Regions from separate parts of the Homo sapiens genome. Here region 1 is linked to region 2. The links come from fine-mapping of genetic effects on gene expression. A gene starts in region 2. The other region holds a variant in brackets. All regions are shown on one strand. Distances are between the middles of the regions.

Region 1 (5,362 bases), 56 kb after region 2:
ACATTGAGCTCTCAGATGCCCGCCTCAGCCAAGTGAAGGGCTGGAGGGTACCTATCCTCCCCGACCGGAGGTACAGCCCCTCTCCCATGGCGGATACTTGGGAAACTCATGGGTGGATACAGCCTCGGCCCACAGTCTGATCTGCATATGGGTATAAGGCCCTTGGTATACATAGTCTGTAGGTTGGTTGTGCAGTCAACAAGCTTTCATTGACCAGCTACTGTGTGCTAGGCACTGGCAAGTGTTTGAGAGATGGGGTGAATGTGGCCAGTGCCTGACCCTGCCAGTCTCTCAGTCCAGCAGGGGAGGAAGGCATGTGCATGCCACAGAACATGGTGGTGGGTGGGAAGCCCCGTGTGCAGGGAATCAAGTGGCACAAGGAGAGAACCCCCTCTCCCTCCAGGAGAAGTCAAGGCAGGCTTCCTGGAAGAGACAACTCTTGAGCTAAGTCTTAAAGGATGAACTGAAAGGAGTTGGCTGGGGAGACAGGTTAAGAGACTGCCTGCAGTCAGGCAGACAAAATGAAGCAGACACACCTGTACACATGTGTCCCAGCCTGGGCACACCAAGGGCACACTAGTGAGTGCATGAGTGCAGACACACTGTGACTCATACCCAGGCTCCCTTGCGGGCTTGTAGGCTCAGGCACCTGGGTGCCCATACGTGGGGCACATACATGTGTACTCACCGCATTCCAATCACCCACTCAGAGCTGCTGGAGAGAAAAGCACAGCAGGGAAGAGAAGAGAGGAAAGTGACAGGCAGCTAAGAGCAGGAGGTGGGCGGGGCTGGAGAGGGAAGCAGGTGGTGAGAGAAACAGGTGGCCAAGTGAGAATTGGGCTGAGTTCAACTCAGAGAGATTTGGAAGAGTAAGGTGTGTAGACCAGTGCCTCTCAAACTTTAATGTGTACACGAATCACCTGGGGATCTCAGTAAAATGCAGATTCTGACTGGGCAGGTCTGGGGTAAAGCCTGTGATTCTGCATTTCTCACCAGCTCCTGGGTGATAGCGATACTGCTTTGAGTAGCAAGGATGTAGCGGACTCTGAAGCCAGACAGCCTGGTTTAAGTCCTGCCTCTGCTATTTACTAGCTGTGTAAACTTGGGCTACTTACATAACCACTCTGTGCCTCCATCTCCGTATCTGTAAAATGGGCACAATAACACCTGCCTCATAGGATTTTTGTGAGGAATAAATTAATGAACCCAGGTAAAAGAATGCTCTGTGTGAATGAATATTCTGGTTGCTTGATCCTCCAGTACACTAACAAAGCACTAGCTACAGAGAAAAACACTTGGCTTTCTCACCAAAGCACACCTTCCTGGCAGTAAACCTCTCAATTTTAGCATTTTTTGCAACGTGCACAGGCTGAGAATTTCCCAAATCATCAAGTCCAGGTTCCCTTTTGCTTAACAGTTTATTTATGTGTCTCTCTCCTCTCACATTTGACTAAAAGCAGCAAGAGGAAACCAGGCCACGATTTCCACACCTTGCTTGGAAATCTCCTCAGTTAAATGTCCGAGTTCATCACCTACAGGTCCTGCTTAGTTTCCACACAACTGCAGGACACAATTCAGCTAAGATTTCTGGCATTCTGTAAGAAGGATCACATTTGCTCCAGGTTAGAGCTTAGAACAGTGCCAGGCACAAACTTAGTACTGAAGAAGAGGCAGCAGTTGCTGTTAGGATTTGACGCCAGCTATTCCTAGGCTTGGCTTAAGCCAAGAAGAGGCAGAGAGGGACAGGAGGTAGGGTCAAGAATGTACTTTTCTAGGAGAGAAAAGGCTGGGACTCCTGGTTCCCAACTTAGAGATGGAAGGCATGAGCCATAGAGGAAGCTTGCTTTTGCAGAGCTTCTGGGAAGCTGGGAGGACCCAACAGGGCAAGGGTGCGGGGTGTGTACTGTGCAGGTCAGAGTCCAGGTGAGAAGCCTTCAGCATGGCATGTCCCCACCCCAGGTCAGTCCGGGAAAGCGAGGATGAGGATGAGGAGGAGGAGGAGCGGCGGCAGAGTGCAAGCCGTGGCTGCACCCTGCAGTACCAGCATGCCACCCTGCAGGTCTTCACCCAGTTCCACACGACATCATCCGAGGGCACTGACCAGGTGGTCACCATGTTAGGCCCGGACTGGCTGGTGGAGGTCACCGACCTAGTCAGTGACTTCATGCGGGTGGGCGATCCCCGAGTGGCACACATGGTGGACAGCAGCACGCTGGCAGGACTGGAGCCAGGCACCACCCCCTTTAAGGTAGGTATGGGCTCTGTCCCAGCACAAAGGGGCAGTGTCGGGAGCCTTATTTACCTGTGGGTGCAGAACTCAGATTTTCCTAACCCCAACTGGCCCCCAGAACACTCTTCCCTGCCTGCCCCTTGTCTGAAATTCCAAGGTCAGGCTCTTTTAGCTTCATCTTGGTAAAAGTTCTCACTCCAAGTTGTATCAACCTTTATCAATCCTCAGTGTGGGTGACTCAAGCAGACCCCTCCCTGAGAGCAGAGGGGGAGCAGGTGAGAGTCAGCCAGCCTAGAGTCCAGGAAGGTGCATTTGGTGATCTAGGAACTCAACTTTGACCTTTCCTGACTTGTTTCTACCCTGACAATTGGGTGTCTGGATAGAAATCATCTACCTAAGAAACTGTTGTGATCTGTGGGCTAGAATCTGCCTGCAGACATATCTTCTTTGTAAAACAATTGATCCAATGTGTTTTAAATTGGGAGATTTCTCATTTAAAAAATATATAGAGATTTCTGGTTTCACAAAAAATGAATCTGGTAACAATCAGCTAAAGCCAGTATTGGTGCCTCCTATACACGAGAATGAGTTCCCTCATTTTCTAAGTTGTCGCCACTCCCTTTTGTCTCCCTGACATTGAGGTTGCACATCAATTGCTACTAGTCACCATG[C/A]GGGGGTTGTTGTTTTCCTTAGAATTGGCCCACCTCTCTCATTTGTGTTCCCGCCTGGCTCCTGTGAGCCCCCGACCCTCTCATGACCTCTGGACACTGGTTCCTGGTTGCAGACCTGAGGCAGAGCTGCGAAGTCCTGCCTCCCAGCCTGCCTCACCCTTCAGGCCCCTCTTCCAGCAGTGCTGGGATTTCTCCCTAGCTGGGGGTCTTGGGCAGGGGGGTGTGCTTTCCTGGTTCTCTCCCACCCCGGTCCCGCTCTGCCTCAGGTGGTGTCTCCGCTGACGGAGGCTGTGCTCGGGGAGACGCTGCTGACGGTGACTGAGGAGAAGGTCAGCATCACACAGCTTCAGGCCCAGGTGGTGGCCAGCCTGGCCCTCTCCCTGCGGCCCAGCCCTGGGAGCAGCCACACCATCCTAGCCACCACAGCTGCCCAACAGACCTTGAGCTTCCTCAAGCAGGTAACTGGCTCCTTGGCCCACCAGCCAGGGAGTTGGTGGTATGGAAGGAGAACTTGGGGGCTCTGCTTTGCCCTAGCACCAAGAGTCCCCATATTAGGGCTTTAGGAAATGGAGGATCTCTGCCCTCCATGCCCTGCACAACTGCCCACCCTATGGCCACAACATCTACATGGGAGGTCAGAGCAAGGTCTTGCTTGCTGCTCTTGCCACCTGAGATGTTCCCTCTGAGGGTCTCCCTCCTGGATTCACAGAGGGCTGTCACCTCCACATCACCCCCAGGAAGTACCCTCACTCAACTCTGGAGCCCCAAGTATACACCACAGGCATAGCCACAGGATGAAAGTGGAAAGGTGACAGATGAGAGTCCTGGGGAGTGAGGAGGTGACAGGTGAGAGTCCTGGGGAGTGAGGAGGTGAGCATCAAGTGCTGAGCCCGGAGTTAGGACACGGGTCCTCTGTCCCTAACTCACTCCATCACCCCAAGGCAATCACTTCTCTCTGAACCCTGCTTCCTCATCTGGAGGGAGGGCAATCCTCAGAAGGTTTTAGCCAACAGGCAGAAGTGGGGAGGGGGTGTGTATTCTCAACAGCCTGTTGTCTGATGGGGGTAAGCCCAAGGTTAGGCATGGAGATATGGAGCTATTCCAGCAGCAGAAGGGACTTGAATTAGACCCAAGGCAAAACTTACCTTTAGGTTATCCAGGGGAGAAGGGTGAAGTGGACAAGGGCATCCTCAGAGCAGTATGAGGCCTGGATGCCATGGTCTGGGATTTACCCTCCCCACACCCTGTGAGGAGGACTCTCACTTGAACAGTAGTTCCTGAATGCCCGCCACAGGTCACAGGCACAGTTCCAGTGCTGAGAATACAGCAGGGAGCCAGAGACCCGTGGTCCCTGCCCCTACAGAGCCCAGGATCTAGCAGGAAGCCAGCTGAACCAGCTCTTTGACTCCTATCCCCTCCTTCTCCTTCTCCTCCAGGAAGCCCTACTGAGCCTCTGGCTCTCCTACAGTGATGGCACCACAGCCCCACTCTCCCTCTACAGCCCACGAGACTATGGACTGCTAGTGAGCAGCCTGGATGAGCATGTGGCCACTGTGACCCAGGACCGGGCCTTCCCTCTGGTAGTGGCTGAGGCCGAGGGGTCAGGGGAGCTGCTTCGCGCAGAGCTAACCATCGCTGAGAGCTGCCAGAAAACCAAACGCAAGAGTGTGCTCGCCACGACCCCTGTGGGCCTGCGGGTGCACTTTGGGAGGGACGAGGAGGACCCCACTTATGACTACCCGGGCCCCAGCCAACCAGGGCCCGGCGGGGGCGAGGACGAGGCCCGGGGAGCTGGCCCGCCGGGCTCTGCGCTACCCGCACCGGAGGCTCCAGGCCCGGGCACCGCCAGCCCCGTCGTGCCACCCACAGAAGACTTCCTGCCGCTGCCCACCGGCTTCCTGCAGGTGCCACGGGGTCTGACAGACCTGGAGATCGGCATGTACGCGCTGCTGGGCGTCTTCTGCCTCGCCATCCTCGTCTTCCTCATCAACTGCATCGTTTTTGTGCTGCGCTACCGGCACAAGCGCATCCCGCCCGAGGGCCAGACCAGCATGGACCACTCTCACCACTGGGTGTTCCTGGGCAACGGGCAGCCGCTGCGGGTGCAAGGAGAGCTGTCGCCGCCAGCAGGCAACCCGCTGGAAACCGTGCCCGCCTTCTGCCACGGCGACCACCACAGCAGCGGCAGCTCGCAGACCAGCGTCCAGAGCCAGGTGCACGGCAGGGGCGACGGCTCCTCGGGCGGCTCAGCCCGAGACCAAGCCGAGGACCCCGCCAGCTCGCCCACCTCCAAGCGCAAGCGGGTCAAGTTCACCACCTTCACCACGCTGCCGTCAGAGGAGCTGGCCTATGACTCGGTGCCCGCGGGCGAAGAGGACGAGGAGGAGGAAGAGGACCTGGGTTGGGGCTGCCCGGATGTGGCGGGCCCCACGCGGCCCACTGCACCCCCGGACCTGCACAA
Region 2 (5,362 bases):
AGCCCGGGCTCCAGTTGGGGTGGCTCCTCTGACTTCCCCTTATCTAAGCTCCAGTGGCATTGCTGTTTGGGAATCCGTAACTAGGACTAACAGGTGAGACCGAGGGCAGTCTGCTGGGGTAGTAGGAAAGGCAGAGGGAATGTATAGAACCCCTTTCCAGGTAAATGACATGCAGGATTGGAATAGCTGAAACAACTGGCTGTCTACCTTGTGCCAACTGCCTTCTCTCTGAGCAGTAGGATTTACACTGCTGAGAATGACAGGTCCATGGAGCACTGCAGGTTGTAGTCATATTTTATTCTCCAGGTGGGCTATCGGCTGCCCTTCACTTCCCTGAGGCAAGGAGGAGGAAAATCTGGCATTTGGAGAGTCAGAGGATCATCAGGCCCATGGACTTGGCACAAGGCTTCAATCCAGGAAGGGTAGATCCATATCGGAGGTACAGGAAGAACTTGAGGCTGAAACTGTGTTCTCTAAAGATAGCAGGCTGCTCCCTCGCCCTTTCCAACCACAGGCCTCAGTCTTCTCCATAAGATGAGCGAAGTGCATGATGCCAAATCACACCACAATTGCAAGCAATTAGAAGCTTAGTGTCTGCCTTCCCCTCTAGAAAGTTAGTTCCATGAGGACAAGAGCTGGTTTTGTCCTGCTCACTGTTGTACCTACAATGCCTGTGATGTTGGAGATATGCACCATACTACTGTGAAAGGGAGGGACAGAGACAGGGAGGGAGGAGGAGAAACTGAATCACAAAGGAAGGTCACATAAGAGCTATGGGGTGGGGTGAGATGGGGTTGCAGAGAGAAGAATTCTATGTCTGAGTCCCTGCCCACCCTGACCAGAACACTGTGCTATTTCCACAGATGGCTGGGAGAGATGCAACATTGCTGCCCCTCAGACCCTAGCGTCAACTGGGAACATTTGAGGAGAAAGGAAATTTGATCCACAACACAGGGTAAGGTGTGTCTTGGGCTCAGAAAAGCACCTTGTCTCTTCCTTCTGGCCATGCTCAGGCTCCATGACCCTTCTGATGGGGTGCTGGGCAGGGATGGAGGGCCCTCCCTGCTTCCTTCCTCCTCTTCCTGAAGCCCTCCTCTGCCTCAGGAGGTGGATCTTTCCCCCTTTCTCCCCCACACAGAGCCTGATTGCTAGCTTGCTTCTCAGGGGGTTGGTGAATAAGCCCTTGGGTGACATTAATTGCCATCAGGCATTAGGGGCCTAATGAGAATAATCTTCTTTGACGACTCCAGCACCTTCTATCCCCAGGGCCTCCAAGAGCTGGCCAGCTCTCCTCAGGCTGCACCTCCCCCCAGCTCCAGACAGATGTAGGGGTGGGGGAAGGGCCAGAGCAGCCCTCTACAGGCCCCAGTACCAAGCGAGGCAGCAACAGCCAGCAGCCAGGGAGGAGGAAGCCTTCCATGAAAAATGCAAGCACATTTTCCAAAAACAAAATGTCACCGTCCTAGATGAAAGGAAACTCTCAGGGTCAAGAGGGCTAGCATGGAGTCAGGCAGATGGAGGGCACGGTTTGAGTGCCCCAGCTGGCTTTGCTCTGACCTGGCCCCACACTCTCACTCCAGTTGAGTGCAGAGGTATGGAAGGGTGACCCTCAAGATCCATATCCTCCCCAGTAGGGATATGTCCATGGGATTGAAGACCCTGTCCCTCCAGAGCAGGGTAGGATTGAAATTCACCCTCTGGGGATTGGAGTTGATACCCAACGAAGCTATAAAATCATTGCCATGGATCCGATGCCTGGTTGACAGATGAGGTGTGAAGGTTGACTTGCCGGGTCTGATCTAGGTTGCACTCTAATGGAAAGGGCCTGATGGTGGGAACAGATATCACTCCAGCCACCCCTCCCGCTAGTCAGCAGGTGCCTGGGTGAGTATGCAAGAGGGGCAGTTCCCCACCCCCACCTCATGCCTCTTTAAAGGCTTGCTAAACAACCTGTAGGAAAGCACTGTCCCCTCCTCTTCTCCGTCTTCCTTCCCCAGCAACAGAATAAATAGGTTTCCCACAGCTGCGCCCCGGACCCATCCCGCACGAAGCTGAGCCCCAGAGCCCCCGCGGCCCGAGAGGAGCTGGGCACAGCAGCGAGGCTGATTCCCAGCCAGTGCCCAGCGAACTCTGGGGGTGGGGGTAGGGTGCCCCCTACCCGCGCCTCTGGAAGAGCGGCTGCAAAACACCTCCGGCGCCCGGTGGGGAGCGTGCATCCTTTGAAAAGGGACATCAGTGACTGCGGTGGCGTCTACCCTGGAGAAACGCAGCTGAGGGAGGTGGAGGCTCCTCCCGCCGCAGCTGGCCGGCCCCATTCGGGTCCCAGCGCTAGCCGGCGTTGGGAAGGAAAAATCAAACATAAAATAGGGGCGAGCGGAATCGCGAGGTCGGCCCTTGGCCCGAGTCTCATTAAGGAGCCGCGCGCGCCGCCAGGCTAGGAATGCGGAATGGACACGTGGACAGAGGAGGGGGAGCTAGGAGTCGGGGAGTCTCCGTGGCGCGCGAGCTGTGGGCCGCGCGCTCGGGGGCCACGTGACCACGGGGAATCTGGGAGGGGTGGGAGTGAGCGCGCCAAGCTCGGCGCCCGCTTCTGCCCGGGTGGGCGCTGAATCCCGGACGGAGGAGGAGGGCGGGCGAGCGCGAGTGTGTGTGTCTCTCTCGAGTCATTTACGGCGGAGCAGCCGGCGCGAGCGCCGAGGAGGCGGCGACGGCGGCGGCGGCTGCTTCGTGCAACTGTGGCTTCCCCCACCTCCTCTTCCTTTTTGCTCCTCGATTCTTCTTCTTCCCCCACACACGTCCATGGGGAGCCGGCTCCCCTGCCAGCACCTCCTCTCCTCTCGGCCCCGTAGGCACCAGCTGCCGCTTCCCTGGCCGCAAGCTGCGCAGGTGCCGGCTGCCCTGGCCCCTGGCGCCGCGCCCGCGTCTCACCGCCCGCAGCCCGGACTGGCGCGGCGATCCGCTCGCCCAAACTGACTCGGAGGGAGCGGGAGCCGATGCCCGGCAGCATCGAGACAGCGGGCGAACGGGCGTCCGGGGACAGGGTGGGGGCGGCGGGGAGGAGGCGTCGGAGACTCTGAACCCCAGAAAAGTTCAAGGTTTGTGCAGGTTCCCCCAGGGAAGGCGAGGAGCGAGGCGGGGCAGCGCGCCTCTCTGCCGAGACAGCGAGACCTTAGCGGGGTGGCCCGGAGCTGCCGTGAGCTGCAGGAGCCCCTCTGCATCTTACAGCGTTTATGGTCATCAAGCTGGAGTCGACGTCCTGGGCAGGAAGGGCTCGGGGCAGGGCGCATTAGCCGGCTTTCTCGCTCCCTCGCTTCTCCAAGCCCCATCTACATGGGGCAGCCCGTTCTGGCCGCGCCACCCTTGCCCCAGCCGCCGAGCGGCTGCCTGGGCAGGAGGCGCTGAGCCGGCCTGTGTGGAGCCTGGGCCCTGATCCAGACTGGAGAAAGCGCGCTGGAGCGGAGGAGCGAGCCTTGCGAGGGGACAAACATCTGGCCGCCCGCCTCGGGCATCCGGTCTGGGCGTCGCCTAGGGTGGTGGCGACCGGCGTCGCCAGTTTCAGCACCGCACGGAAACTTTTCCTTCTCCAGATGGATTAAAGTTGTCTGGATTTTCTCTTTCTTTGAGAAAGACAGCATTCATTTGCACCTGACCTGGGATTTTTATGCTGGGCTGCTGCAGGGGCTTGGAGGAAGAAAGCGGCGCTATCCATGTGCGGTTACTACCGAAACCGAGGAAACTGGGGATTGCGTTGGAAGTCGGCACCCTCGAGTGAGTTCGGATTCGAGCTGGGCCGTGAGGCCGGGAGATTCAGCACTGGGCTCTAGGTAGCCCCCGGGACGCCCGCGGCCACCGGGCTCCGGACTGCACGTGCAGCTCCCCCCGCGCCTCGCAGATCCTGCAGGGGGCACCAGCTGGGGGAGGTGGAGGCTCCTCCCGCCCGGAGCTGCGCCCCCACCGGCTCCGAGGGTGTAGCCGCCAGCGCCTGGGACGCCCCCTCCCCGCAAAGTGTCCCCGAATTGCACTCTCTGGTCCCGGAGCTGCATCTGAGACAGCCGGGCGCCACGGCAGCCCTGAGTTGGATGTGACCAAGCCCAGCCTGGGGCCAAGTCGTCGTCGACTGTTGCTCTCTCGGACCCCTCCCGCCCCCGCCTCGGCCATGGCCCCGGGGATGTCGGGCCGCGGCGGCGCCGCCCTGCTCTGCCTCTCAGCGCTACTCGCCCACGGTAAGTGTCGCGGCGCGGACTGGGGGTGAGGATGCGGCAGGCGCCACTGGAGGGGGTACGGGGAAGACTGGGGAGAGGAGCACCCACACCCCCTGGACTCGCAGCCGCCACTCCGGGTTTGGCGTCTCTGGCTGCAGCTCGAGTTACCGCCAGCCCCCGAGCCCTCCGGCGAGCTCAGCTGAGGGGACCGAGCCCGGCGCCAGAAAAGGGTGGGGGGAGGGTGTCGCTCCAGTCCTCTCCTGGTTATAAAGAAGGGTTCGAACCCGAAGGTCTGGGGTCGTGTCCGCCCACGGAAATCTAGAGGGATCCGAGGGATCCTCCGGATCGCGTCCAGGCCGCCCCCCGCCCCCGTCTCTCCCTGCAGCCGGCCGGGCTGGGGGCTGTTGGGATCCGCCGGGATCGCGTCTTTCCTCGCCCCGGGCGCGCAGGCCGGTGCGGGGCCGCGCCGCCCGTCGCCTCGCTTCCTGCGGCGGTCCTCGGGAAGGGAAGTGGACTGACTCCGGGCCGGGGAGCCGCCGCGGCTCGCACGCCCGCGGTCCTGTGAGCTGCATCTAAATGGCCGGCTTAGGCGAGCCCGGAGGGCGGGGGTCTGGGCACCCGCACAGGCCGGGGCGGTGGGCCGCGGGCCGCGCGCGGAGGGAGCGGGCTCCGCGCTCTCGCATTCTGCAATCTGTTGCGTCTGCTCCCCAGGCTCGCCCCGGGCTCCGCGGTAAAGGGGGTGGGAGAAGGAGGGATTGAGGTTGGCGCGCTTTGGCGGTGGGACAGCGGGCATACGGGTGGGGGGCAGCGGGTTTTTGAACAGCCCCCAAGAATGGGAAATCAGACCAGAGGGAAGGAGGCTGCAGCGGGCCTTCCGCAAGCTGGAGACGCTCCAGGAGGCGAGGGGAGCAGACCGAGGTGGGAGGGAGAGAGCTCCGAAAGGAGAGTGGAGAAGCGGGGCCCTCTGCTCCCTCCTAACGTGAAACCAGCCGACCTGGGATACATTTTCTTAACCAGCAAGGCGTGGCGGGGTTGGGGGGCGGGGGTGTTTCGATGCTCCACGCTGAGGGGTGAGCCTCAGGCAGAATGGAGGGCGCTTAGATGGAGGGGGCAGTGGGCTCTCCGCATTGGTGGAGCGCCCTCGGTGTGCCGGGCTCAGC

What was found. PIP is the estimated chance that this variant, and not a neighbour inherited with it, causes the effect.
Region 1: its variant is the best candidate, but not a certain one, in a credible set for the expression of TMEM132E in whole blood (TOPMed, PIP 0.56).

Annotation. Positions count from the first base shown.
Region 1 is chr17:34,632,840-34,638,201 of GRCh38, forward strand. TMEM132E (transmembrane protein 132E) reads left to right here. Exons shown (of 9, transcript NM_001304438.2): 6 at 1-70; 7 at 1,960-2,248; 8 at 3,168-3,359; 9 at 4,338-5,362. Among named protein-coding and RNA genes, the nearest start is that of TMEM132E, 56 kb to the left of the region's middle. The variant C/A (reference allele first, on the strand shown) is at 2,902.
Region 2 is chr17:34,576,921-34,582,282 of GRCh38, forward strand. TMEM132E (transmembrane protein 132E) reads left to right here and starts at 2,662. Exons shown (of 9, transcript NM_001304438.2): 1 at 2,662-4,223. The coding sequence starts at 4,157. TMEM132E-DT (TMEM132E divergent transcript) reads right to left here and starts at 2,449. Exons shown (of 2, transcript NR_160787.1): 1 at 1,951-2,449; 2 at 1-700. RefSeq lists enhancers at 1,614-2,150, 2,151-2,686.